Homo sapiens: one gene and its partners. The protein of the gene in region 2 purifies or fractionates together with the protein of the main gene of each other region. This does not show direct contact. Each region holds a gene or a part of one and is shown on either strand. Other genes may lie near its edges.

Region 1 (4,173 bases), on a different chromosome or scaffold from region 2:
AAACACCACATGTTCTGACTCATAGGTGGGAATTGAACAATGAGAACACATGGACACAGGAAGGGGAATAACATCACACTCTAGGGACTGTTGTGGGGTGGGGGGAGGGGAGAGGCATAACATTAGGAGATATACCTAATGCTAAATAACGAGTTAATGGGTGCAGCACACCAGCATGGCACATGTATACATATGTAACTAACCTGCACATTGTGCACATGTACCCTAAAACTTAAAGTATAATAATAATAATAATAAAAATGAATAAGAAAAAAAATAATAATGGCCAACTTAACAGTTATGAGGTGATATCTCACTGTGGTTTTGATTTGCATTTCCCTGATGGTTAGTGGTGATAATCGTCTTTTCATATATCTATTAGCACATTTGTGTATCTTTTTTAGAGAAATGTGTATTCAAGTTCTCTGTGCATTTTTTCATTGGACTATTTGAGTGTGTTTGTTTGCTTTGAGTCATAGGAGTTACTTATGTATTTCGCATATTCACCCCATACCAGGTATATGGTTTGCAAATATCTCCTCCCATTCTATAGGTTGCCTTTTCAGTCTGTTGACTGAAAGTTTCCTTAGCGCAGACACTTTTTAGTTGAATGTAGTCCCACGTATTTGTTTTTGCTTTTTTTTTTTGTTGCCTATGTCATATCCAAGAAATCATTGCTAAGATCAATGTCAGGGAGCTTTTCCCCTATTTTCCTTCTAAGAGTTTTATAGTTTAAGGTCTTATAGTTAAGTCTTTAATCCATTTTGAGTTGACTTTTGTATATAGTGTAAGAGATAAGGTCCAGTGTCACTCCTCTGCATGTGAATATCCAGTTTTCCCAACACCATCTGTTGAAGAGACTGTTCTCTTTCCCCGTTGTGTATTCTTGGTGCCCTTTTTGAAGATCAGTTGACCATATACGTGTGAGTTTATTTCTGGGCTCTCTGTTCTATCCTAGGAATTAACATTTATTTCCCTTGTTATCCACACCATTTAGTGAGCCCATCATTCTTTTCATCTGTTTGTATTTTTGTGGGTGATAGAGAACTACTGCGATTTAAAACCTCCTAGATAGTTGAAGACACCAGATAGTTGAGCTTAAAATGATACTTAATTTGTTGTTATATTTTAGGTCTATCATATGCAAGTCACACGGTTGGTTTCACGCCACCAACTTCACTGACTAGAGCTGGAATGTCTTATTACAATTCCCCGGGTCTTCACGTGCAGCACATGGGAACATCCCATGGTATCACAGTAAGTGTCCGTGGGGTAGGAAGCAGCACTTTACTCCTGAAAGTGGTACCGACTGGTGTTCTGGAGAACAGGATCGGTGCCCTTAGACATTTGCCCTTCTTCCTGCCTCCTCCATCCGTTCACCTTGAAACTGTAGAGACTTAAACAGTTTGATACCAAATTCTGGTATTGAAACTAAAATCCTTCCCAGGAGACAAAACTTTAACTTCACTTCCTATGAAAAATTACCCTTTGTGAAATATAATTTGAACTCTGGCCAGTGCTTTGATTGAACTCTGGCCAGCTCCTTGCATTATTGTTGGTTGCCATAATGTCTAAAGATATTTATTGTCTGCACCTTCACAGTTCACTGACCTTCAGTATTCTTCCTGAAGTTAGCCTTGTTTGTAATGTTACTCAGAATTTTCTCTCCTCGAATTACAAGGAAGCTTAAGTGCATCTGGTTCCAACTCTACCCAAGGGAGTTTTTTCTTTAGAGTCGGCAATATAGTTGACTAATAGAGCCATTAGAAATGTAGCTAGTAGAGTGAGAGTATTATTAAGGGTATTTCCAATAACAGAAATACCAATATTTCAAAGAATAAATTATAATATTTTAAAGAAGAACCCTATTCTAAGAATGCACTTAAGGTATTTCTGAAGCTGTTTGGCCAGTTTGATGGACTTTATGTAAAAGTAGGAACTTTTTTTTTTTTTTTCCTCACTCTGTCATCCAGGCTGGAGTTCAGCAGCATGATGTCTGCTCACTGCAACATCCGCCTCCGGAGCTCAAGGGATTCTCTTGCCTCAGCCTCCCGAGTAGCTGGTATTACAGGCACACGGCACCACACCTGGCTGCTTTTTGTATTTTTAATAGAGACGGGGTTTTGCCCTGTTGGCCAGGCTGGTCTCGAACTCCTGGCCTCAGGTTATCCACCCACCTCTACCTCCTAAAGTGCTAGGATTACAGGTGTGAGCCACTGCACCCGGCCTCAAACATAGAAACATTTCTGTTGAGCTGTATCTTTCAGGATGTGGACAACTTATTGGAGATAAGCAATAGAGGGAATTGGTGACACACACGGAAAGAAAGATTTAAGGGGATATTTTACAGCTCTCGTTGAAGGACCCAAGTCCAGCAGTTTGTTCAACACAAGTTGTGCAGTAATTTTATGTAGCTTTTTCATAGGTGGAAGTGTAAACACTGCCTTATTTAAATTTTATTACTAGTTCAGAAACCAGTAGGGATGAAGAAAGAAATCCCTGGTTTCTTGTCTTTGTTGGTTAGTGTTTGATTAGCCCCAGTGCCAAGTCAGGCTGTGTTAGGTAGAATGAGATCCACCTGTACCTAGACTGACTTGCTGTTCCTGTCCCCTCTGCAGAGGCCTTCACCACGGAGAAGCAACAGTCCTGACAAATTCAAACGGCCCACGCCGCCTCCATCTCCCAACACACAGACCCCAGTCCAGCCACCTCCGCCTCCACCTCCGCCACCCATGCAGCCCACGGTCCCCTCAGCAGCCACCTCGCAGCCTACTCCTTCGCAACATTCGGCGCACCCCTCCTCCCAGCCTTAATGCATGAGCTTAGTCTGAATTTCAAGTTGGGACTCATCCAATGGAGCCGTCTACTCAACGCCAAAGGCTTCCTTCTCTGGCATATTTGGATATGACTTATTTGCACTGAGGTTATCTAGGCTTCACTATCCATTGTGTTGTAAATGTTTGTCAGAAATGCAGCCAGTGTTGTGGGTCTACAACACTAACCAGACGACTTTTTCCATCAGTGTTTTACTTGAATCTTCATGTACGTCCATTCCCTGGCTGGAACCTTCGCTGTTTGGTATTTGGTATTTCAGCAGCAGTGTGCAATTTTTGCTTGGCCCAGAGCTTCATTCTCCTGGCTTTTAGGTTTGTAAAAGAAAAAGGGATATCTTTTTTATATTTTTTTCCATGAATCTGCAGAAAATTACTGAGCTGTTGTTACCCTCCTCTCATTATAATAGTGTTTACCAAACATACCAATAATTCAGCACTACAATTCAGACCTTTGAAAATCTGGCTTTCAGTGTAGAACAGAAAGTTAGATGAATCAGTGCCCAAGACATATTTTCTGTTTAACAGAACTTTCTACAGATACATTTTTTACAGGTTATTTTCATTGTGTTATTGACATCCATGTCTCTCGTAAAACAGATGGCCCAAAGTAATGAATCATGTGGCTGTACCTTCTCCACATAAATGGGATGGATAATTATCGTATATTAAGATGTGATTCTCTTTTTTATCCTTAATGTTAATCTACTTAACCTGGCCCCCTCTAACATGAGTCGATAAATGTTGTCCTACTCACCGGTGGTTTCAATGGCTAATTAGAATGTGTTATTTGATTTCTGCTGCAGAAGGCAGTGTGATTGTAACAAAAACAATGCGGCTTCCCCCTTTCGTACTTCATTTGTGTTCTCTTAAAATAGAGTTTGAACAAATATTTTAAAGGTGCAAAATACCATTAGAAAATACTATTTGAAATGGACATTATCGCATTATCTTGGCATAATGGCCAGAAAATATTGTATTGCTTGGCAGAAAAGAAAATAAGGTCTAAAGGAAAGTAGCACATTAGCATTGATGGCTGTTCATTTCACCCAGTATAAGCAAGTGCAGTGTACAAAGAAGTATATTCTGAATACATTATTTCCATTCATTTAGCACAAATAAATCATTTGGTTTCACTTTGCAGTGGAACACTGAGTCACTCTTTTCTTAACACGTGCAACATCTTAATTTTTGTTTTTCAGCAGTTGCTGTTTTGTACTTTGGTAGTAAAGTGATTTTTACCACCTGTGTTTGCATATTTATATATGCTGTGGATGAAAATAACTTACTAGAGAATGTATATTTTATGACAAGAATGTGTATCTGTTGGATATAATCAGAG
Region 2 (4,173 bases):
CAGATGTCAGCTGTCTATACACCACCGTCAGCTCCCACAGACCAGATGCCAAGAAACCCCAATGCACAGCAGCGCCCCCAGATGTCAGCTGTCTATACACCACCGTCAGCTCCCACAGACCAGATGCCAAGAAACCCCAATCCACAGCAGCGCCCCCAGATGTCAGCTGTCTATACGCCACCGTCAGCTCCCACAGACCAGATGCCAAGAAACCCCAATCCACAGCAGCGCCCCCAGATGTCAGCTGTCTATACGCCACCGTCAGCTCCCACAGACCAGATGCCAAGAAACCCCAATCCACAGCAGCGCCCCCAGATGTCAGCTGTCTATGCGCCACCGTCAGCTCCCACAGACCAGATGCCAAGAAACCCCAATCCACAGCAGCGCCCCCAGATGTCAGCTGTCTATGCGCCACCGTCAGCTCCCACAGACCAGATGCCAAGAAACCCCAATCCACAGCAGCGCCTCCAGATGTCAGCTGTCTATGCGCCACCGTCAGCTCCCACAGACCAGATGCCAAGAAACCCCAATCCACAGCAGCGCCCCCAGATGTCAGCTGTCTATGCGTCACCGTCAGCTCCCACAGACCAGATGCCAAGAAACCCCAATCCACAGCAGCGCCCCCAGATGTCAGCTGTCTATGCGCCACCGTCAGCTCCCACAGACCAGATGCCAAGAAACCCCAATCCACAGCAGCGCCCCCAGATGTCAGCTGTCTATGTGCCACCGTCAGCTCCCACAGACCAGATGCCAAGAAACCCCAATCCACAGCAGCGCCCCCAGATGTCAGCTGTCTATACGCCACCGTCAGCTCCCACAGACCAGATGCCAAGAAACCCCAATCCACAGCAGCGCCCCCAGATGTCAGCTGTCTATGCGCCACCGTCAGCTCCCACAGACCAGATGCCAAGAAACCCCAATCCACAGCAGCGCCCCCAGATGTCAGCTGTCTATGCGTCACCGTCAGCTCCCACAGACCAGATGCCAAGAAACCCCAATCCACAGCAGCGCCCCCAGATGTCAGCTGTCTATACACCACCGTCAGCTACAATGGCTATCGCCCAGGCTCTTATTACTCTTCTTTACTTTTACCTAAAACTAAAATAACACTGACTTAAGACCATGTTGTATCATTGCTGGAAATGGAAAGCCAGTATCATGTGCCAGAGAGAGAGGTCATGGGAAATTCCATCACTCACGGCAGTGTTATTCCCGTCTGTGTGGACACTGATAGGAGAAGGCTCTGAACCTGAGATCTGCCCTTATTAAAAAGAGAGAGTAACAGATACAAGAGAGATGCTAAAGACATCCCAGAGCCACAGTGAGAGGTTCGCCTCGGAGCAAGCAGAGAACGCAGGAGAGTCCCGACGGCCTGGAGCCTGGTGATTTCCCGACTTTTAGATTCACTGAACCAACAGAACTCTCACTGCATCCCCGAATGGAAGATTTTTTTTTATTTTGCAAGATATATACATTAAAAGCAACAATAACCACCACCTACTTTTACCATCTTTTCCTAAAAGAACATTTTAATGCCAACAAAACAGATGGCATGAGCTCAGAGTGGTAACAGTGGCTGAAATCTACCTAGACAGCACCCATGTGCCAGGTCCTGTTCTGAGGAGTCATGGAAACTGGAAAGGGCGAAACCCCGAGGCTCACAGATTCCACGTTGGTTCTGTTCCACCCCCACTTCACCTTGCATTCACCTCGCCTCTGTGGCAGACAGAATAATGGCCCCAAAGATGTACACGGTCTGATCCCCAGAACCTGTCATCTGCTGTCTCAGGGCAACAAGGACTCTGTGGATGGGAGGGAGTTAAGCACTGACATGGGGAAACTCTCCTGAACTATCCTGACGGGCCGAATGTCATCACAGGTGACCTAAGACGTGACCACAGTACACCATGGAATACTATGCACCAATGAAAAAGAATGAGTTCATGTCCTTTGCAGGGACATGGATGAACTGGACGCCATCATCCTTGGCAAACTAACACAGGAACAGAAAACCAAACACCATGTGTTCTCACTCAGAAGTGGGAGTTGAACAATGAGAACACATGGACACAGGGAGGAGAACATCACACACCAGGGCCTGTCGGGGGGTGGGGGAAGGGGAGGGAGAGCATTAGGACAAACACCTAAGGCATGTGGGGCTTAAAACCTAGATGACAGGTTGGTATGTGCAGCAAACCTTCATGGCACATGTAACAAACCTGCACGTTCAGCACATGTATCCCAGAACTTAAAGTAAAATAAATAAATAAATAAATAAGTGACCACAGGACCTAAGTGGGTCAAGGTCAGAGGAGTGATGGGGGATGGAAGCAGAGGTCAAGGTCAGAGGAGTGATGGGGGATGGAAGCAGAGGTCAAGGTCAGAGGAGTGATGGGGGATGGAAGCAGAGGTCAAGGTCAGAGGAGTGATGGGGGATGGAAGCAGAGGTCAAGGTCGGAGGAGTGATGGGGATGAAAGCAGAGGTCAAGGTCGGAGGAGTGATGGGGGATGGAAGCAGAGGTCAAGGTCAGAGGAGTGATGGGGGATGGAAGCAGAGGTCAAGGTCGGAGGAGTGATGGGGATGAAAGCAGAGGTCAAGGTCGGAGGAGTGATGGGGATGGAAGCAGAGGTCAAGGTCAGAGGAGTGATGGGGGATGGAAGCAGAGGTCAAGGTCGGAGGAGTGATGGGGATGGAAGCAGAGGTCAAGGTCGGAGGAGTGATGGGGGATGGAAGCAGAGGTCGGAGTGCAGCACTCTGAGGACGGAGGAAGGGCCATGAGCCGAGGAATGCGGGCAGCCTCTAGGAGCTGGAAAAGGCCGGAAACGGATTCTCTCCTAGAGCCTTGAGAAGGGACGTGGCTCTGCAGATGACACCTTGATTTTGGAGACTTGAGAAGGGACGTGGCCCTGCAGACACCTCGATTTTGGGCCATGAGACCAAACCATTTTGGACTTCTGACCTCCAGAACTGTAACAGACTTGTGTGATTTCTAAGCCGCTGCGTTTGTGATTTGTAAGCCGCTGCGTTTGTGATTTGTTACAACCCACTTTTGGGAACAATGACCCGGAAGGAGGGCGAGGATAGAGAAGCCAGAGCCAGCACAGAGGTGCCAGGAGGCAGGAGCAGAGGAGGGGCGAGCTGTATCCCAGACAATAAGAGGGGGGAGTGTCTGGGGGCTGGTCGGGCCGCATGAGAAGGGAGACGGATGAGGCCACTGGCAGCCTTGACGGGAGCTGCTCCCTCTGGAAGGAAGGAAGGCCGCCCGGCTGCCATGGACTGAAGGCTTTGCTCGCTTTGCCTCACCGAGATGCCCCCTCTCTGCTGCTACATCTCAGCACCCAGCAGGCACTCGGTACGCACTTATGAGGAACACGCGACTGCTCTGACTCTTCACCCTCCTGCCACTGGGGACTCAGGCCTGGCCGCAAACACCCCCTCACTCAGGGCCCCTGTGCCGCTCGAGGTGGCTCAGGGCCTTTGCACTGGCTGCTCTCGTGGCCTGGACCACTCTTCTCAGAGGTCTCTGCGTGGCTGCCCACCGCTCATCACCCAGGCCCCACACAGCAGCCACCAGCCATGGGAGAGTGCCACTACTGAAAGGATGGTATTTTGAACACATTGGGGTCCATGAAGTAAATTTGCCTTTTTTTAACGTGCTGACTAGAACACTTAAGATGGCATGTGCAGCTCACATAACACATCCCCCGACAGGACTCTAAGCCAGGCTGGCAACTTCCCTGACGGGGCCAGGCAGTCAACACTTCCAGCTCCTCGGGCCCTCTGTGGTCATCACGGTGGCAAGTGTCAGCCCCAGGTGACATGAGTGGGTGGGTGTGGCTGTGCACCAAGACTTCACCCAGAACGTGAGTCGGCCCTTGCCTGCTGTGTGGTCAAGAAACCAAACCTGCCCAGAGAGGCCTGGCTTTGCCCTCTGCCCCTGGGAAGTCATCTCTGAGCCCTTGGAGCCTCACGCATGATAAGGAGGGTCTGCCTGCCCCGGGGGACTCAGGCCAGCCCAAAAGCAAGATGAATTTGGGGTAGAGTTTGGACCAGGGGGTATCCTTGACTTTCAGGGGGCGGGAGGCTGAGGTCAGCCACACAGAACGGGGAGGAGTCCCCAGTAAGAACCCAGGACACCACGGTCTGAGGAGAATTCCTGGCCGGCAAGACCC
Region 3 (4,014 bases), on a different chromosome or scaffold from region 2:
GAAACACTGGCCATGTTAATTCCAAACGGCCTCACCCGGGGAAGGGCCAAGCTGAGAAAAGCAGGTGCTGAAAATTTATTCCAGAAAACTCCAGGGAATAGGGAGTATGGAATCCCTGGACTAACTCGTGAGCCTGGACAAGAGGAAAAACGGCCACTGCTGAGGATTCAGTCAATGGGGAATGATGCAAATGATGCACTGGGAGCAGTAACCCCATTTCTTTCCTTCCTCAGCCCATCCTCTGTGGCTTTCATGGCCCTCAGGGCAGTAACCACACTCTGGGCCAACACTACAGGCACAGGATTCTTGATTTTAATAAATAAATAACCTAACACACAGGGTGAGCACGGCAGGCAGCTTTGATTGGAGAAGCAGCTTGCTGAATTCTTTCTTGTATAGTAGTGGAGAAAAGGCTTGGAGTTCTATTCCTTAAAAATTCTGGTTTGAGTTACAGGAACTTAATACCTGGAGGGAAAAAGAAAGATGAGACTGTGATGTTATCAGCTAATGGGGATGCTGGGACATGAAGAGCCTGCCTAAAGGTGTAACAGGGAGGCAGAGACTTTTCTGGAGTGTACAGTGACAGGAAATAACTGTGTTTCCTTTTCACATCATTGAAAAAGGCCAATATTTCTCCATAAAGAGATAAAAATCATAGCAACAAGATGAAATGGGGAAAGGAATTGAGGAAGGGGAACTTTATTTAATGAGGCAAATAGCCACTTACCCAAACTCCACCTCTCTATCTCCAAAAGGCAAATTCAGGAAGGGGAATACTATTTAAGGCCTTGAAGAGTCTTTTGAAGGTGGCAGTGAGGGGAAGTGGGTTCATTTTTCTGAGTTCATGTAAGCATATGTGGTTGGGGATGCAAAGACCAATTCCAGTGCAGGAAGCTCATCACTGCCCAGGTGTCCCTGATTTCTGGGGAGCCCAAGGCACCTGTAGTAATTAGGCTTGAAGGGCCCATTCTTGTTGAGTCCCAGATACTTGGCCTGTTCATCTGTCAGCTCTGTCAAGTGGGCATCAAAGGTAGGCAGGTGTAGGCTGGCCACATACTCATCTGGAACAGACCACAGAAGCCCTGGTATAAGCATTCATGCCTTTTATCTGATGGCTATTGTCCCCAAGCTAGGCCTTAAAAAGTTCAAAGACACCTTCTAATTCCTGGAGCTGAATGAAAAATGTTCAACCTTCGCTCACTGGTCCTCAATTCTAAGGAATAGCTGCCTTCAGCTTCAAGCCCAGTGCTTTCCAAAGCCTTAATAATTCATCCTTACTAACTCAGCTTTGAACCCTGCCTTCCAGAAAAGTGCAGGAGAGATGAAAGAAACAACAGGCATTAAGATTTAAAAGAAGGAATAGGATAATGTGGGAACTAAATAATGGGAAGCTCCAACTTGAGTTTTGCCTTGGACTCCATACTTTGGGTCATTTAAAACAACTAATGCCTGGGGAAACTTGAATGGAAAAACTAAGAAGGATACTAAATGGGATAAATGAACTGTTTGCTTTGCTTTTAGTACTCTTAATTCTTATGGGTTTCTGTTCACATTCTATTATCTGACTACATAGTACTTATTCATAATCTTATGTCATTTCCTATGTATTTGTTTGGTCTCCCAACTTCATTATACATTCTGTCAGAATATGGACTGTGCTGTTGCTTTTATATCCTTCTAAAGTGTCTACTAAAGGGAAAATGTATCAACTTTTAACAGTTGTTATATACCTAGTGCTAAGGCAAAACAAAACCAGAAGCTTATTTATTACCTGATCTTTGCCTGAGGAGTTTATAAACACACTGTATCAGTTCAGGTGCTTGAGGCAGGCTCTTTAAAAATTTAAGACAGGTTAATGTTTCTCTTATACAAAACACCCACATAACTAAATAGCTCCTATTCCACATCTCTCCTTTGGCCTGAAGCACTGGGATTGGTGTTGGAAGGTGTAGTAAGAAAGTCTTGTGTCGTCTGAGAAAAGTTTGGTAGGGGCTATTTGGCAGCCTAGAATTGGAGTAAGTCAGATGTCACAAGGTAGGAGATGATTCTTCTCTTTTAAGGGAAGATTTTTTTTTTCTCCTTTGAGATTCCCACATAAAGATACTTTAAGAAAAAAAAAATCCTTAAAATTCACAGGCAGGTAAAATAAATCACAGCATAATATCACAACTTCGCTAGGGCAACACATGTAGAAAATGGGATAAATAAATGGGAATGGCACCTAGGAATCCTAATTCCTACTTTACAAGATGAAGGTACCTTTTTTCCCCCATCCTTAAGTAAGTTAATGCCCCCAAACTTCCTTTAACCTCAGACTCTGAACTACTTTGGTAAGGATGGAGATGGAAGAGTAAATACTTACCCATCTTCTTGGGCAACAGGTAGACATCCTGCTTATAGCGACCCTCAGGAGCATTGTAAAGCTCTATCAAGGCAAGAGCCTAGAAAAGCAGAGAGATGGATGCTGATGTGCCATTCATGGCAATCTACCCAAGCAAGTGAAACCTGGTGGGTCTGAGGACCTTCTCCAGACTACTGCTATCCCACTCTGGAAGCCTTACCTGAGTAGTAGCAGTGATTGAGAGCACAAATGTAGGCACTGTGGAGCAGCTAAGGTTCAGCAGGCGGCCCTAGTGATCAAAGGTGAAGACACAAATGGATTAGGACAAAGTCGCTGGCCTTTGAGAAGTGAGGGAAGAGAAGCATGACCACCATTTTCCAAACACTTCCTGACTAACACTGCTGGAAAAAAAGCAGCTATTCAATATATAAGAACTAACTGACTGACATTTAAATGAAACCACTAAAATTCTGGAAAATCTGATGAAACTAATAGCTAAAAGATTTCTGGAATTATTTAAAAAGGAATACAGATGGTCATATGACACTGAGGCTTATGCCAAATATCAGTGTACTTCTCTTGAATTTTCCACTCTCTATAGCAAAATATCCTCCTTCTGAGGATCGGCATTTCTTTTAAAGACTGTCTTGAAATAAACAATGATCAGTCAAATCCAGGGACAATCTCTCCAGGTTGTGAGGGGAGGTATATTTGGACTTAGGAAGCTGTGATGATTGATTGATTGATTGATTGATTGATTGATTAGATGGAGTCTCCCTCTGTTGCCCAGGCTGGAGTTCCATGGCATGATCTTGACTCACTGTAACCTCTGCCCCCTGGGTTCAAGTGATTCTCCTGCCTCAGCCTCCAGAGTAACTGGGATCACAGGTGTGCGCCACCATGCCCGGCTAACTTTTGTATTTTTTTTTTTTTTTTTGTAGAGACAGGGTTTCACCATAGCTGTGATGATTTTTGTGCTTCTCCTTCAGTTTGCTTCTCCTGAATTCAAAGACAGCATTGTCAGCCTTGTATTTTGAGTTGGTGATTCAGACAGTAGAAGAACTAGAAATTGCCCCCAATGCCACCCTTTCCTATTTTGTTTCCTATGAAGCCTGACCACCTTTTTGCTCAACCATCTAGCCAAAAACACCCATGGTACTTGCTTTTGTCACCAAAATTACCAGGTGGGACCTCCTAGGGCAGCTAGAAACAAGTCATCAGTCAGCAGACTGACATCAAAGCTATTAATGCATATTTGGCAATCTGCCCATCTCCTCCTCATATATACTCCTTCCTTGTGAAGAAATAGTTCAGTCCCTTTACAAATGCCCTGAAGTATCTGAGAAGATGAGATAAAGTGAGGAAAATGTGAAGAAAACAGTAAGGACACTAAAAACTCCTAACTTATGGGCCCCTAGATAAAGACAATGTATATTTTACATTTTCATATTCAGGTTCTTTAATATAAAAAAAGAAAAAAAACCAACTGAAAATCAAAATTGAGAAAAGTATTATTATCCTCCTTGATATTTTGGTATCTTTCTCTGAAGAAGAGAAAGCTTCAAGGTAAGAATAGAAGGCATCTAATATTATAGCTGTCAGGAATCCAGGACTAGGGAAGAGGAGCTTTTAAGAAAGGAAAAGTGGTCAAACACTGACATGGAAGCCAATAA
Region 4 (4,173 bases), on a different chromosome or scaffold from region 2:
TCCCAGGCATGGGAGGCTGAGGCAGGAGGGTTACTTGAGCCCAGGAGTTCGAGACCAGCCTCGGCAACAAAGTGAGACCCTGTGTCTACAAAAAATCAAAAAAGTTAGTCAGGCATACTGGTGCATGCCTGTGGGCCCAGCTACTCAAGGAGGCAGAGGTGGGAGAATTGCTAGATCCCAGGAGATGGAGGCTGCAGTGAGCCGTGTTTGTACCACTGCCCTCCAACCTGGGTGACAGAGCTGTCTCTGTCTCAAAAACAAACAAGCAAACAAAATACACACACACCTTACATGAAAATGGTAATCATCGTAATTGCCCTTAATTGCCTGTAATTGCTGTCATCTAGTTTAATCCTCCAATGATCTGGTGAGGCTGAAGTTAATCATCATGTTACAGATGAAGAGTTAGAGCTCTGAGTCAGGGATATAGGTGGTCCCTGAGCCCCCTCCTTACCTCTCAGCCATGCACCACCACCAAGACCTGAGATATGCGGCCCAAGGTCCCAGTGCATGTTGTAATTACCGCCGTGCACATTTATTAAAGAACAAGTCAGGAGTGGTTTGCTGCCTTCCCACCCTCACGCTTAAGGATGGGAAAAGTATATTAGAATTTCAGTTGGGGGCCAGGCACGGTGGCTCATGCCTGTAATCCCAGCAATTTGGGAGGCTGAAGCAAGAGGATCACTTGAGCCACGGAGTTCGAGACCAGCCTGGGCAACACAGCAAGGCCCCGTCTCTAATTTTTTAAAAATAAAAAATTAGCCAGGCATGGTGGTATACACCTATGGTCCCAACTACTTGGGAGGCTGAGGTGGGAGGATCACTTGAGCCTGGGAAGCTGAGGCTGCAGTGAGCAGTGATTGCACCATATCACTCCAGCCTGGGCAACAGAGCAAGACCGTGTCTCAAAAAAAAAAAAAAAAAAAAAAAAAAACCTCAGTTGGAGGGAAAACAGCAAACCACCCGCTTGCCTCCAAGGGTGGACATGGAAGGTTTGTCAGGTGAAGAAATCCCAGCAGGCTCTTCCCTGTGGATTTTGAAAGTCAGAGGCCGTGCTGCTGTGTCATGGCAAGACCAGGGGGTGCTTTCCCCCTCAGCAGGCAGGGGCGTCCGCACCTTCACAGGTGACTCCATCCACATCGCTGAGCTGGTAGCCTCGCCGGCAGTAACACTGGTAGGAGCCGTAGACGTTGGCACACTCCTGGCTACAGGGGCTGCTGCTGCACTCATTGATGTCTGAAATACAAAACGAGGGTCACCGCTCAGAGCATCATACGTCCCTGCCTCCACAGTAGCCCTCAGGGTCAGTGAACAGAAAATCTCCTCTCCACCTCCCTCAGGTTAACACACTCGGAGAGACAGAGGTCCCGGGGGGTGTGGCCGAGGGAGAGGCGTCATCGCTGGTGGCTCCGGACCCTCCATCCCTGCTCCTGCCTGCTTCGACCACAACTTCTCCTGCCAGGATGGCAGCGATCGCCTCCAGCCTTGGCCCCTGGAAGTCTGCCCCGACCTGGCTGCCAGAGTCCATTCTAGTTCTCAAATGGAAATCTGATCCTGTGCTCTCCACTTCACCTCCAAGATGGCATCCTAAACAGATGACGGCACACAAGGAAGTCCTCGGCCACCCAGCCCATACGCCAGTACTCCTCATACTCCAATGCACAGAACTCACTGGGCCACTCAGCAACTCTGAACTACTGCTCAACTGTCCCCTTTACCTAAAGCAGAGGTCAGCAAATCATAGTCTATGGGCCAAATTTGTCCCAACACTTGTTTTTATAAATAAAGTTTTATTAGAACACAGCCCGGCAAGGCATGGTGGCTCATGCCTGTAATTCCAGCACTTCGGGAGGCCGAGGTGGGCGGATCACGAGGTCAGGGGTTCGAGACCAGCCTGGCCAGCATGATGAAACCCATCTCTACTAAAAATACAAGAATTAGCCAGGCATGGTGGCACGCACCTGTAGTCACAACTTCTCGGGAGGCTGAAGCAGGAGAATTGCTTGAACAAGGAGGCAGAGGTTGCAGTGAGCCAAGATCACACCACTGCACTCCAGCCTGGGCGACAGAGCGAGACTCCGTCTCAAAATAATAATAACAATAAAATAAAGAATACAGCCACATTCACTCTTTTTTTTTTTGAGACAAAGTCTTTGTCTGTCGCCCAGGCTGGAGTACAAGTAGCTCAATCTCAGCTCACTGCAATCTCCACCTCCGGGAGGCTATTGTCCACTAAATGTGGACATGAATTCAAGCAGTTCTCCTGCCTCAGCCTCCTGAGTAGCTGGGGGATTACAGGTGTGCACCACCATGCCCGGCTAATTTTTGTATTTTTAGTAGACACAGGGTTTCACGATGTTGGCCATACTGGTCTCGAACTCCTGACCTCAAGTAATCCACCTGCCTCAGCCTCCCAAAGTGCTGGGATTACAGGTGTGAGCCACTGTGCCCTGCCACACTCATTCTTTTACCATGGTCCTCTGGCCACTTCTCTGCTACCACAGCAGAGTTCAGCGGTTGCAACAGAGATTGTGGCTGGAAAAGCCTTAAATCTATACTATGTGGCTGTCACAGAACGTCCAATAGCCTTCCACCCCGTGTTTCATCTCTGTGGCCCCCACACACCAGGCCTGGCCTCCACCTGTCCAGTGTGGTCTCTCATCCCCCGCTAGAGACACTCCCCAGTGCAGGACCGAGTTCTTGCTACACACCCGGGGCAGGACCCTAACAAATGGTTAGTAAGGTCACATAGCAAGGTTGGCCAGGCTCTGGTTCTATATCCACAATATTGTCCACTAATGTGGATATGAATGCCGACTTTTCAGCAATTTATGAATGACTAGAGGAAGCACAAGCCAGGAATCCCACTACTTCTACTAAATAATAATAAAGCCAGCAGCCTCCACACCGCCAGCTCTTCATCCTGTGCTTGGCCCTGTGATAAGCTCTTCACATGCTTAATCTCGTTTCATCCTCACAACCCCCTATGGGGTTGGTCCTACTATGCCCGTTTTACAGATGAGGACACCATGGCCCAGGAAAGACTGAGTTACTTCTTCAAGGCCATGGAAATGGCAGAAGTCAGGTTTGAACACAAGCCTGAGAGACTCAACTCGTGAATCTTGTTCCTTGTCCATACACGTTCTTGTGAACTAAGCCCAGGACCCCTCACACCGTCCGTCCTCCGATTTGAGAATCATGCACACCACAGCTCACTGTGGCATATCCAACCCCTGCGACCATCTCATCAGGAAGGAAAATTCTCATGGCAAAATGTTAGGACCTGCCATGTTTGAGTCAGGCTGCAGAAGCCGTCCTGTGAGCCAGTGCACGGCACCAAACAGGGTGTCATCGGCAATGTGGACGATTGTGGAGGGCCATCCAAAGCTCTCAGTGTCTGCTCAGCTCAGAACCTAATCCGTATACAAGACACGACATCTGCCAAGCACCTAGTATGTGCCAGGCCCTGGGCTGACATGCAGTTCATGTGACCTTCCCATCAGCCCAGGAGGTTGGTGTTATCTGAGAACCACAAGACTGTTGGCAGGAACAACTCTGTCCAACCCCCACATACCAAGAGACCTGACCCAACTTCAGCGTGGCTGCCATTGGCCCAAGACCAGGTATCCAGGATGTAGACCCAGCCCCCTTGACATGCCTGTCTGAGAAAGATCAATGCTGCCAAAAGAATTTTCTCTTGGTTCCAGCCCAAACCTGACTACAGGCGCTGACCTCCATGTTCCTTAGAAGCATCTACTTTAGAAAAACTTGCAAATGTAAACGGTTTCTCTGTCCCTTTGAGATGTGCAACCAAGGAGTGTCTTTCTCAAGGGCTGGGGACATGCCTGGGGAATGTCGTCATCCGGAAGGCCAGGGTGCTTCTCCCTGTCTCTGCGGGTGGGGAAAGCCTAACTCCAACACGAAGTTAGAGGCAGGCCGGGCGCGGTGGCTCACGCCTGTAATGCCAGCACTTTGGGAGGCCGAGGTGGGCGGATCATCTGAGGTCAGGAGTTCAAGACCAGCCTGGCCAACATGGGGAAACCCTGTCTCTACTAAAAATACAAAAATTAGCTGGGCATGGTGGTGTGCACCTGTAATCCCAGCTATTCGGGAGGCTGAGGCAGGGGAATCGCTTGAACCCGGGAGGCGGAGGTTGCAGTGAGCCGAGATCGT
Region 5 (4,173 bases), on a different chromosome or scaffold from region 2:
ACACAGCTAGTTCATGGAAAACCTTAGTCACTCTAGTCAAAGACTGTCTTACCACATCTTAATTTTAATCACATCGATTTCTGCTGTATTATACAAACTCAGCCACTGTCTTCAATCTCCAATACACTGCACTTCCACACCAAGCACACATATACACTCACTCACAATTTGATCTTGCTCAAAGATTCTCCAGTCTTAAGTCATCTGCGCTTTCTGACTTTCTCAAATTCTCTCAGCCCAACCGCTGCATAGTAACCTACGGTAGATCTTCCAGCATCTCTCTTTCTGTAGAATATTACCAAGATACTCTGAAGAATACATGCATGGCAGAAAGTACTTTGGGGTTCATGCCACTAATTGACACTTTATCATGAAAAGATTAAAATGTTCTCATTTGTATTTCTTAATAGCCTAAAGAATGTTTTTTGATACAACCAAAGGAAAGAAAAGAGAATACCACCAAGACCAGGAAAAGAAGAAAGGTAATATTAATAATTTCTTAAATTTGTATGGCCCCACATGGTTTCCATCACATTTTTATATATCATACTTTCTTGAGGCAACTATTGTAATCCCCACCTAAGAGATGCAGACATTGTAAGATTCTTTGAGGTTTGGTGACTTTCCTAAGGTCACTACTAATAAGTGTTTCTGTTGGAGCTAAGAATAAATTCTTCTGACTCCTATTTCAGTCCTGTGGAGTGCCAAATATCTTTGTTACCCACCCTATGTTTTCAGTGTGGTCAGATGTCAGACATAGATTTCTAATTCTAGAAGGAGTCCAGAGCTATCCTCCCCCGGCCCTTCTGGCTCTGTCCATGAAAAGAAATATACCAACCTCCTTTTTCTATTCATTCCGGATTTTAAGACCTTATACCTTAAAGTATGAATAAAAAGAAAATAATAAGCAGATGAAGGTAGTATGAGGCACTTCTGACTAATTTGGAACCATAAATTAGGTCAAAAAAGCTCCCCTACCTTGCATTTTGATATTTGCTGGTGAGCACAGGAAAGACTCTTTCTCATATACAAACTTTTTTATGGCTCAGCCTTGGAGAAAGTATGGTTAGCTATGACCTTCTCCCACAGTTGTGAAAACAGCAGTGTAATTCTCTCCCTGCCAAGAGGGGTCTGCTGCTGAAGTCAGCCGAGGAAATACGATTGGGATTAGAGGAAAGAAGATGGACTCAAACCTATTACTTAACAGCAAGCTTTTAGAAAACTGAGAGTGTGTGTGCATATGTTTTCTTTTCTTACAAATGGCCAAATAGGAAAATGGGAGATGCCAAATTGGCTGAGGTTTGGCAAGTCCTTAAATAAGTGACTTTAACTTCGCTTTGATAATTTGTACACTAATGGCCTTCTGGAGTGTTAAGTTCTTGGTGGCTCAAGGTCAAAACTCTAGCTAGATAGTTTAGTCTTGACTGAGGTCACACTAAAATGTGCCCACTGATGACATATTTTTAAAAGTTAATTTCTTTGACAGAGGCTTGACCATTCTTGGCAAGTGTCTAGAAATGAGGATATTGTAGAAGGAGGGGGAAAATCTGGGGTCAGGGGTGGGGAATGCTCCTTCTGGATCTTTGGTGGAACATTAGAAGGAAGTGAGAAGGGAAGCTTATGATGGAAATAAATGAATGATTGTGGGTTTCTACTACTGCAGCATTCAATACATGCTACACAAATGAGTCCAAATCAAAATCGATGTTGGAAAGTATTTCCTGTAATATTTTTTCTACTTTGCATAGGGCCACTTTAATACCATCAGTTATCCAAGACCTGAGAATCGAGGGTGTTAAGTCCCCTTCTCAGTAGGCCCCTATGCTCAGATTCCTACTGCGGGTTTTACACTAATGACAGAAATCCAAACTAAGACTCAGCACCTCAAAAACCAGATTGGGCAAGAAATTCTCAAAATTCTAATCCTACAGGAATATAAATCATCTAGGGCTAAAAGAGAGCTCTCCATAGCAATGAGATTTCTTTACTTTTAACAGAAAATAATACCCCAGTATGGAGATGCCTGCAAAAATTTAGTTATCTTGGAAGTCATAGACCAAGAGTTACAGGGAGCTTTCTAGATCATTTTTTCATTTTTCAAAGCAATAGTTATGTCCAAGAAGTATTTAGTGAATTTTCTCAAATGTATTTATTAAAACCCACATTCACACTTGGCTAACACCAAAAGCTATGTGCCGTTTAAATGCCAGAGGAACTAACCTATTCCAACCAAATGCCATTTTAAAATATGTCGTCCCATTTTTCTTCTTTCTCATATCTTAGAAGAAAATTACTGATGTTCTTGCAAAATCAGAACCAAAACCAGGGTTACCTGAAGACCTACAGAAGCTGATGAAGGACTATTATAGCAGCAGACGCTTGGTGATTGAATTAGAAGAACTGAACCTGCCAGGTATAGCCAAGCTTCAATTTTCCTAAAGACAAGGAGCAAAACATAAGTATCTGTTATGGTTAGGTGTCTCAGGCAGTCAATTAACACATTTTCCAGCGGGCATGGTGGCTCATGCCTATAATCCCAGCACTTTGGGAGACTGAGGCTAGAGGATCGCTTGAGCCCAGGTGTTTGAAACCAGCCTGGGCGATACAGTGAGACCTCATCGCTATTAAAAATAAGAATAATAATAATAATTGTTTAAAGAGACATACTTTCAGGCCAGGCACAGTGGCTCACGCCTATAATCCCAGCACTCTGGGAGGCTGAGACGGGTGGATCACTTGAGGTCAAGAGTTCAAGACCAGACTGGCCAACATAGTGAAACCCCATCTCTACTAAAAAATACAAAAATTAGCTGGGTGTGGTAGCACACGCCTGTAATCCCACCTACTTGGGAGGCTGAGGCAGAAGAATCACTTGAATCTGGGAGGCCGAGGTTACAGTGAGCCAAGATGACGCCATTGCACTCCAGCCTGGGGGACAGAGCGAGACTCCATCTCAAAGAAAAAAAAGAAACATAATACTTCTTTTCCTCAATCTAATAGTTTTAACTGATAGATTATATCAAATAGTTTTAACTGATAGATTATATCCTTACTGGATGCTAAACAGTATTTGTCAAATCTAATATTAAGATTTGTGATTGTATTTTTTTATTCAAAAGGTTAATTGTTGGGTGTGCATTTTTAACAAACTATTCAATGAGTAGGAATTCATCATGAGGATAGAAGTTGAAGTACACATTTAAAAGTATGGATGTGAAACACTGATTTACTCAACTATTATAGACAAGAACTTTAGCCTTAATAAGCAATTTAGTTTTGTTGTTGCTCTTATTATGGATTTCTAGTCATGGTTTTTAGAATAGTATTTTAGGTTGCAGGCCAGACTCTTTCAAGCAAACTGTCAAAAGGTAGGAACAAAATTCTGTATGTTTTGCGAGGCTGACACTTTGCCTCAAGGGATTCTTAGGCCTACTAGAATTTTAGATCCTCTGCCTTAGTGTATTTATAATTAAGCTAAAAGATATTACAAAATTTAAACAGCTAATTTTTTAAAAATATTTATTTATTTATTTTAGAGACAGTGTCTTGTTGTGTCGCCCAGGCTGGAGTGCAGTGGCACCATCGTAGTTCACTGCAGCCTCGAACTCCTGGGCTTAAGTGGATCCTCTCATCTCAGCCTCCCGAGTAGCTGGGAATATAGCCACGTGCCACCATACCCAGCTTAAACAACTAATTTTAATTAATTTCAAAATTATAATGCATCCTTTAACTCTTTTAGGCAGGGATGGGAGGAAATAGATGTTGTCATAAAATCAAACCATAAAAGTTTGGGTACAACTGCTTCAGATGAGCTATTTATAGACTACTAGGCATATCTAATATTGCTTTTGGAAAAAGTAGAGGGTGGCTTGATTTCCGTTTTCCATTACAACTTTATGCTTTCTAGAAGCTTGAGAAGCTGAAAAACAATCTGTTCCCTGAATTTTTATAATTCTTTTGTGATATCCTTTTTCAAAAACACACATTGGGTTTGGAGACATGAGTGCCCTGTCTGTTTTCCAAGGAGATTACCCTTTAGGGAATTGAAGGAGTGCATTTGCACATGAGCAGGATCTGGACTTTTAGACTTACTAAGCCCAGACAGTTCCAATAGCAGTTATAATCCACTCTTCTCAGCACACCACGGCCTCTGCTGTGAAAACTATGTCCTGA
Region 6 (4,173 bases), about 15 Mb from region 2:
GAACCCTTCAGCAAAAACAGGTGCAGTGCTCAGCACAGCTGGCGGGGGCCCAGCTTGCTGCCTGGTGTCTGGAAATCTTTTTCCGCACGGATGACACTAGACCTTAGACAAACACCACAGGGCGTTTGCCCTCCTAGAGCATGTGGGGCCAAGGGCCTGGTCCAGCTGTGAGCAGTAGACAGTCCAGGAGCAGGCTGCAAGCCATGCTGGTCCATGGGGGCTCTGGACAGCCACGTGGTCTGGCCCTGCTGAAGGGCTGTCCCAGGGCGAGTCCCCGATCATGACACCAACCCCTGGCCCTGAGCGCTTACTCTGTGCTGAGGGCACTTTGCCAACTGCCCCAAGACTGCCCTCAACAGCTGTCTTGGGAAGGGCTACCATCCCCCTTACGAATGAGGAAACAGAGGCACAGGGCAGTTAAGCAACTTGCCCCAAGCATCTAAGACAAAGGGTTAAGATATGCCTTCCTGGCCCTATCAGTGCTCGCTGACACTCTGAGGGTAGTCCCCATGCAGGGCCCCACACCAACAAGCTCCCTGGAAGACCCCACTCACTGCTCCCTGGGCTCACTCCTTCGCTCCCAGGCACTCATTCCTGCTCAATGATTTTCTTCATTCCTGGTCTTTGACCCTTCCTTCCTTTCACTCATCTGGGCTTGCCGGGCCCCTCTAATCTTGCACCGCACTCAGGTCTGTCAAGGTTCTTCCACCTGCTCCTGCTCCCCGAAGGATACAGCACCTGAGGAGGGGCCAGGGGATCACTGCACCAGGCAGACAGGGTCTCCTGCACAGGCCACACCCACAGCGAACGTTGACTTCACTGCATCCTCCCAGCGACCCTTGGATGCAGGTACCGTCATAATCCCTCTTCTGGAGATTAGAAAACTGAGGCTCAGAGAAGGGAAGTGACTTGCCCAAAACCTGACAACTGGTAACAAAGGGTTAAGAGCACAGACCCTGAGCCACTACACTTTCTGGCCTTCAGAGTGGGAAGACTGCCCCCTCCAGAGTCCTAACCCTGGCTTGTCTCTTTCTTGCTTGGAAAGCTCTTCTTCCAGCTCCTTAGACCTTCCTGGCACTATGCTGCTCCTGGAAGAACACTCAGAAAAACTAAAGTGTACACTTCAATGGGGACCACAGGGCCAAACCACGGACAGACGTACCTGCCTCCCGGTACTGGCCAAACACCAGGTCCGTGTTGTCCAGGGCGGCGGCACTCCCCACGTGCGTGCCCTCCTCACCATAGTTGGTCATGTAGAAGGAGATCCGGCCCTGGGGGTGTAGAGGGGACCGGGGTCCCACAATTGGTTATGCTGGGCAATGACAGAGAGCCATCCAAATCCTGCCCAGCTTCCAACACCTCCATGAATTCACAGTCCTCCTGAAGGCCAGTCCTGGGCCAGGCCATGCTGGGGTTCCTGCCTTTAAGAAGACGCTGCCAGACTGCTTAGAACTGCCAGAGGGATCGAGTTGCTGTGATAGAAGCCCAAAGGAAGCACCTGTTCCACCACGGAAGGGCATCGGTGAGGACCAGTGCGCAAAGATGGGGTGGGTGGAGGGTTCCAGGCAGAGGGAATGATAGACCATGAGGCCAGAAGGGCTGGGACATACAGTGGTAGGGGTGGGGAAAGATGAGGAGGGAGAGGAGATGGCACCCAGATAACAAAGGGAACGATACATTGATTTTACTCTGAGAATAGTGGTAACCTGCCGACAGTCTTCTCAAGGGAGCAATGTGGTCAGACCTGTGTTTTAGAATTGCTCTCAGGCTGCAGTGAGGTAAATGGATGGAGTCATCAAGGCTGATTGCAGCAAGCCAGGAGAGAGGGGGCAGAGGCCCAGCTTGGTAGCAGAGGGAGGCGGGAGAGGAGCAGGTGGATGTGTCTGAGGAAGCTGAGTCGGCTGTGCTAGGGGGCAGCAGACCCTGTCAGCTGGCCACACCAGTGCCCAGTTCCCTTCTCCCAAATCCCCTAACCTGAGCCTCAAAAAGACACGCACTCAGGTCCCTGGCCTCCCTTGCAGCCAGAGGTGGCCATGGGACACAGTTTTAGCCAGATATTTTGGTGGAAGTCTGCTTTTGCTTTCTGGATAGAAGAGACCACTGCTGCTGGTGCCAGCCCTACCCACTCCCTACTTCTTCCTGCCTTGCAGACAGCCATGAAGCTTGGACATGCAGCAGCCATGCTGTGAACACGAGGCCACAAGCAGAGCACGAAGGTCAACTCACCAACAACAGTGAAGCAGAGAAAGGATGGGGCTGGGTCTCAGAGTGTGCTGCTGAGCAGCTGAGCACTTCCTAAAGATGTATCTACAGACAGGCTAGGCACGGTGGCTCACACCTGTAATCCCGGTACTTTGGGAGGCCAAGGCAGGCGGATCACTTGAGGTCAGGAGTTCCAGACTAGCCTGGCCAATGTGGTGAAACCCCATCTCTACTAAAAATACAAAAATTAGCCGAGTGTGGTGGTGGGCGCCTGTAATCCCAGCTACTTGGGGGGCTAAGGCAGGAGAATCACTTGAACCTGGGAGGCGGAGGTTGCAGTGAGCCGAGATTGCGCCACTGCACTCCAGCCTGGGCGACAGAGGTGGACTCCGTCTCTAAATAAATAAATAAAAATAACATAAAAGAAAAGAAGTAGCTACAGCTGGGTGCAGTGGCTCACACCTATAATCCTACCATTTTGGGAGGCCAAGGCAGGCAGATCACCTGAGGTAGGGAGTTCGAGACCAGACTGACCAACATGGAGAAACCCCATCTCTACTAAAAATACAAAATTAGCCAGGTGTGGTGGCGCATGCCTGTAATCCCAGCTACTCGGGAGGCTGAGGCAGGAGAATCGCTTGAACCAGGGAGGCGGTGAGCCAAGATCGTGCCATTGCACTCCAGCCTGGGCAACAAGAGCAAAACTCCATCTCAAAAGTAAAAAAAAAAAAAAAAAAGAAATATCTACAGACAGAGGGAATGAGAGGGGAGAAAGGGATAGCAAGGGGGAGGGAGGAGACAGGGATGAGATGAGGTTTCTGGTGTGGGCAAGCAGGTGGATGGTGGTGCTCTTCACTGAGAAACGGACTAGGTGAGGCAAAGGAGCACGCCTGGGAGGAAGATGTCGAGGTCAAGTTCAGACAGGATTAGTTTGCTGTGGGACATCCAGGGCGAGAAGCCAAGCAGGGCTCTGACAAGCAGTCTGGCTGGGGCTCTGGGCAGCCCTGGCATACGGATGGACATGAGATCACACAGGGCCATGTGTAAAGCGGAACAAAGGCAGCCTGGCCAGCACCCTGAGGGACACCCCGGGGCCAGAGCTCCTCGCGGCTCGGCGGTGCCCTCCTCCATGTGTTCCCAGGCCTGGCTTTCCCGTTGCTGTGGGGGAAACTGATGAATGTGTGCTTTCTTCTAAGTGGGGAGCCAATTAAAAGTTAATGCACATTCCAGTGCCAAGTGAGTGGGCGGTGCTGAGTACTGAGGGCCTGGCAGGACTGTCCAGGTTAGCGTGGGTAAGAGCCTGCAACCAGCCCCCTGAGGATCAGGACTCGGGGCTACTGGCAGAGGCTCCTGGTTGCCTTCCCAGTATACTATTCCCCTCCTCTGTTAACAGAGGTCTCAATCTCCCGCAGGCAGCAACTGCCGGGACTAAAGTATTATTAATACATTTCTCAGTCTCCCCTGCAGCTAGGAGTGGCCCAGGAAATGTATGCAGATGTCACTAGGTGGGACTACCCAGAAAGCTCTATAAAGGTGGGGGTGTGGGATAGCTGGGATGTGCCATGTCTGGCCTTCCGCCTTCCCTCTACTTCCTGCCTGGAAGACCCCCTGGATCTAGCTGTGCCCCAAAACAGGACCCTCTGGATGTATGGTCATTGGAGTCAATAACTTCCCTCTTTGTTGACACTGGCTTGACTGGATCCTTGTCCCTGATACTAGGATTTATCAGGGGATCACAGCCCATTTCACATGGGCCTAGGGCGGTCCCCTGGAGCACTCCAGGAAGCACTGGGGACCCACCCTGTTTCTCAGGACTGTGCATTTCCAAGAGGAAGGGCTGTCAGGCCTTCTCCCTGCCCTCTCCCCACACAGGCGAGCCCCCAGCCAGGCACACAGTAGGTGTTTTTTAGTGATCAGGTCCATCCTTCTGCCCTAAGGCAGGACTGCTCTCACACTTCTCCTCCAGAGTCC
Region 7 (3,446 bases), on a different chromosome or scaffold from region 2:
CTAACTGGGAAAGGGTAGATGTGAGGAGGTAATAGAGGTGAGAGAGCATATATTACAGTATATATGATTTTAGGAGAAAAGAATGGGAAGAGAAGACATTTCCACATATTAAAAAAAAAAACTATGTCACATCTGGACACATTTCACAGAGCATATGAAAACTGCCCACAAACTAATTAAGCCTCTTTACTCTCACTCCAGAAATTTTTTTTCTAATAATAACATTAATAATAATTAATATAATTCTGGCAGCAGCACAAATCTATGACTTTTTAAGGCTTAAGAGAGTCATTTTTAAATACTTGGGTACAACTGAATAATATGAGTCCTGCCATTTCTTTTATTTACACTCTTGACTCAGCAAGAATTATGACAGAAGTCCACATGGTTATCTGCAGCTTGTTAAGTCTTCTACAATGGCTTTGACTTTATAACCCACTCAGCATTTGGGTTAAGCTGATATAAATCCTTCATGTAAGTGTCATCATCAAGGCAGCGTTCCCCTGTTAAAATAGATGTTGTGTCAGTTTAATACAGCAGGTAGATTGGTATGCAATTTTAAACTTAAGCTTAATTATTTAACTCTTAAGTCTTGGACTTCAAAATACTTATTCTACTTTGGGAGGCCGAGGTGGGCAGATTGGTTGAGATCAGGAGTTTGAGGCCAGCCTGGGCAACATAATGAAACCCCATCTCTACAAAAAATACAAAAATTAGCTAGGCATGGTGGCTTGCACCTGTAGTCCCAGCTACTCAGGGGGCTGAGGTGGGAGGATGGCTTGAGCTCAGGAGGTGGAGGTTGCAGTGAGCTGAGATTGCGCCACTGCACTTCAGCCTGGGTGACAGAGGCAGACACTGTCTCCAAAACAAAACAAATAATAATAATAAAAAAAAAACTTCTCATTCTTTCCTGTTTCTCAAAATATTGTAAGAATTGGCCAACAATTGGAAAAATAAATTTGGTAGTCTTTCTCCAAATGAATAGGTTTCAAATTAATTTAGGAAGCTGAAAATACTTTGTATGATAGGCTTTTAAATAGTTCCTTAAAAGCTTAATCATCTTATTAGGAGGGGCAATGGTTTTGAATCCACCTAAGAAACTACACTTAATTCCCAAGATCTAAAAGGAAAATAAGAAATCAAATCTATTAATATTTAAATAACCTTTACTAATAGAGTTAACAATTCCAGGTTTCTAGTGTCATGGCCTATTTAAGAATAAACCTTCACATTCCTATATTTAACTTTTAATATTTACTAACATTTTTAATTCCCACAAAAACACCCTACAAAATTTATTGCAAAATTATTTTTAATTACTATTTTGAACTTAACATGATTTCATTTATTTCTTAATAATTTTACCCTTACCATTTCCAAGAGTCAAAAAAGAAAAAAAGATTATTTTAAATTTTTAAAAAGAGATGGTTAAGACTCACTGATAATTACAAAAGGGTAAAATATAAAACATGGTCAAAGTTAATTCATTCCATTTTTTAAATTACTAATGTGAATTTGAGTGTGTGTGCATGTGTATAAAATTTAGCAGGAAATCAACTATGGCAAAAGTAAATCTGCTTTTACTAAAAATATCTAATACTGTACTATAATAAAGTGTTATCTTAGCCTTATATAAGCTCAACTACTTCCTTTACTATGTGACATGAGTATATTACAAAGAAGAGAGTTTTGAAAAACTTGCATCATTAACCATTCCAGGAGTTATTCTTACTGTATAGGGAACTTGCCTTTGCTGAAATTGAACATAGATGGGCATTTGTACAGGCGCTCAAACAGAGCCTGAAGAGAAAGGTCAAACCATTAAAGAAATCCACAATATTCAGCAACTTATCTAAAGCATGGTATATTTTACTTCTAATTTCCTGTTCTTCCTCCAAAGACATAAATAATAACCACTGGCAATATCAAAACAGCATATAAAATGTAAAGAGAAAAAAAAGTGCTTACCAATATTTCCTCCAATTTCATACAAAAAAACTTCTCCTTTCTTGAGAGTCTGGGCAACCCCACTATGAGGGACAAAACAAACCGATTAGTTGTATCATCAAACAGCTTGCAAGTAAATCACTTTAACGTGCTTGGGGAATTCTGGCTGGTATGGAAAATTCATAACTTAGACACACTGTAATTATCTACACGTTTGTATTTTCCCATCTGTTAAATGTACCCAATAGGTAATAAAAGTATCACACCTGTAAATTAAAATAAACAAATGGAATTATACATCTGAAGGCAAAGTAGTAAACCAGTATCTAAATTTGTAAAATTCAAAAGAAAAGTTAATGTAACATTTCCGCTGCCAATCAAATTATTAATATGATTATCCACTTTGTATACAAGCCAAAATGGTCCTCATAAAACTATTAAATGTTTCCACTTTAGTTTTCACATTACTCTTATTCAATAAGTATTTATCATGGGTTTGCTGTGCTGACAACTCCAGTAGTGTGCAAGATGCATGTGAAGAATAAGACATGCTTCTGACTGGGTGTGAAGGCTCATGCCTGTAATCCCAGCACTTTGGGAGGCCAAAGCAGGTAGATCGCTTGAGCCCAGTCTGGGCAACATGGCAAAACCCCATTTCTACCCAAAATACAAAAAATTTAGCCGTGCATGGTGGTGAGTGTCTGTGATCCTAGCTACTCGGGAGGCTGAGGTGGGAGGACTGCTTGAGCCCAGGAGATGGATGTTGCAGTGAGCTGAGATTGTGCCACTGCACTCCAGCCTGGGTGACAGAATGAGATCCTGTCTCCAAAAAGAAAAAAAAAAGAATAAGCCATTCTCTTCTGTCAGTTGTGCAAATGAGGGCAGCACAGACCCTCAGAGTGGAAGCAAATTATGTCATTATCTTTCTGTAAAAGAATTACCTGAGAAACCTGCTAAAAATTCAGATGGAGAGCTCTAGAAACTCAGATTTAACTGGTCTAGGATAAAGCCCAAGAAACTGCTTTTCAAATGCTCTATAGTGGATTCTGAAGCATGGCAAGGTTAGTGGACCACTAAGATAAGGCCCTGAAGACACACTCTCTGGAACTGAGAAGAGAAAATCAGGTCTGACTTGTATTCAAGCCATTAGGAAGAGCATGGTACAGCAGCAGCGCTCCTCACCACCCATGGAATGGCTCATCTGGTTCTCCTCCTTTCTCTCCCTGCCCTGTGTCCCTGGCACACTGGACAGTCAGGGCTCTCTGGGCCCTCACGCTATGTTCCACCTGCTGCACTGCATCTGATCCACTTTGTTTCCAACTACAGTGTAGGTTTATCTTTTAAATTAAATAATTTAATCATTATTATTTTTGTTTTTAATCTAGTACATAACACAATCAACTACTATAGGTCTAAAGAGAGTCCCTATTTCTGTGAAAACCAAATTGAATGTTTCAGGAGACTTGATTTAAAGAAAAACATCTAGTTAGATATTGCTG

Evidence for each region.
Region 1: the proteins of ZNF444 (region 2) and CCDC6 purify together in Homo sapiens (affinity purification with mass spectrometry; 3 studies listed by BioGRID and IntAct, with this or other methods). This does not show direct contact.
Region 3: the proteins of ZNF444 (region 2) and AHCYL2 purify together in Homo sapiens (affinity purification with mass spectrometry; 3 studies listed by BioGRID and IntAct, with this or other methods). This does not show direct contact.
Region 4: the proteins of ZNF444 (region 2) and FBLN1 purify together in Homo sapiens (affinity purification with mass spectrometry; one large-scale study listed by BioGRID and IntAct). This does not show direct contact.
Region 5: the proteins of ZNF444 (region 2) and CMSS1 purify together in Homo sapiens (affinity purification with mass spectrometry; one large-scale study listed by BioGRID and IntAct). This does not show direct contact.
Region 6: the proteins of ZNF444 (region 2) and BCKDHA purify together in Homo sapiens (affinity purification with mass spectrometry; one large-scale study listed by BioGRID and IntAct). This does not show direct contact.
Region 7: the proteins of ZNF444 (region 2) and ARHGAP18 purify together in Homo sapiens (affinity purification with mass spectrometry; one large-scale study listed by BioGRID and IntAct). This does not show direct contact.

The regions. Positions count from the first base shown.
Region 1 is NC_000010.11:59,791,557-59,795,729, reverse strand, and holds part of CCDC6 (coiled-coil domain-containing protein 6), read left to right. Parts: intron 1-1,132; coding exon 1,133-1,257; intron 1,258-2,618; coding exon 2,619-2,813; 3' UTR 2,814-4,173.
Region 2 is NC_000019.10:56,147,580-56,151,752, reverse strand, and holds part of ZNF444 (zinc finger protein 444), read right to left. Parts: intron 1-4,173. UniProt on the Homo sapiens protein: Transcriptional regulator. Binds to the 5'-flanking critical region of the SCARF1 promoter.
Region 3 is NC_000007.14:129,423,490-129,427,503, reverse strand, and holds part of AHCYL2 (adenosylhomocysteinase 3), read right to left. Parts: intron 2,631-4,014; coding exon 2,562-2,630; intron 2,442-2,561; coding exon 2,363-2,441; intron 1,062-2,362; coding exon 941-1,061; intron 466-940; coding exon 459-465; 3' UTR 1-458. UniProt on the Homo sapiens protein: May regulate the electrogenic sodium/bicarbonate cotransporter SLC4A4 activity and Mg(2+)-sensitivity. On the contrary of its homolog AHCYL1, does not regulate ITPR1 sensitivity to inositol 1,4,5-trisphosphate.
Region 4 is NC_000022.11:45,544,148-45,548,320, reverse strand, and holds part of FBLN1 (fibulin-1 isoform D precursor), read right to left. Parts: intron 1,237-4,173; coding exon 1,117-1,236; intron 1-1,116. UniProt on the Homo sapiens protein: Incorporated into fibronectin-containing matrix fibers. May play a role in cell adhesion and migration along protein fibers within the extracellular matrix (ECM).
Region 5 is NC_000003.12:100,160,020-100,164,192, forward strand, and holds part of CMSS1 (protein CMSS1), read left to right. Parts: intron 1-165; exon of another isoform or gene 166-410; coding exon 411-482; exon of another isoform or gene 483-685; intron 686-2,283; coding exon 2,284-2,413; intron 2,414-4,173.
Region 6 is NC_000019.10:41,411,147-41,415,319, reverse strand, and holds part of BCKDHA (2-oxoisovalerate dehydrogenase subunit alpha, mitochondrial isoform 1 precursor), read right to left. Parts: intron 1,272-4,173; coding exon 1,163-1,271; intron 1-1,162. UniProt on the Homo sapiens protein: Together with BCKDHB forms the heterotetrameric E1 subunit of the mitochondrial branched-chain alpha-ketoacid dehydrogenase (BCKD) complex.
Region 7 is NC_000006.12:129,578,102-129,581,547, forward strand, and holds part of ARHGAP18 (rho GTPase-activating protein 18), read right to left. Parts: intron 2,031-3,446; coding exon 1,969-2,030; intron 504-1,968; coding exon 412-503; 3' UTR 1-411. UniProt on the Homo sapiens protein: Rho GTPase activating protein that suppresses F-actin polymerization by inhibiting Rho. Rho GTPase activating proteins act by converting Rho-type GTPases to an inactive GDP-bound state.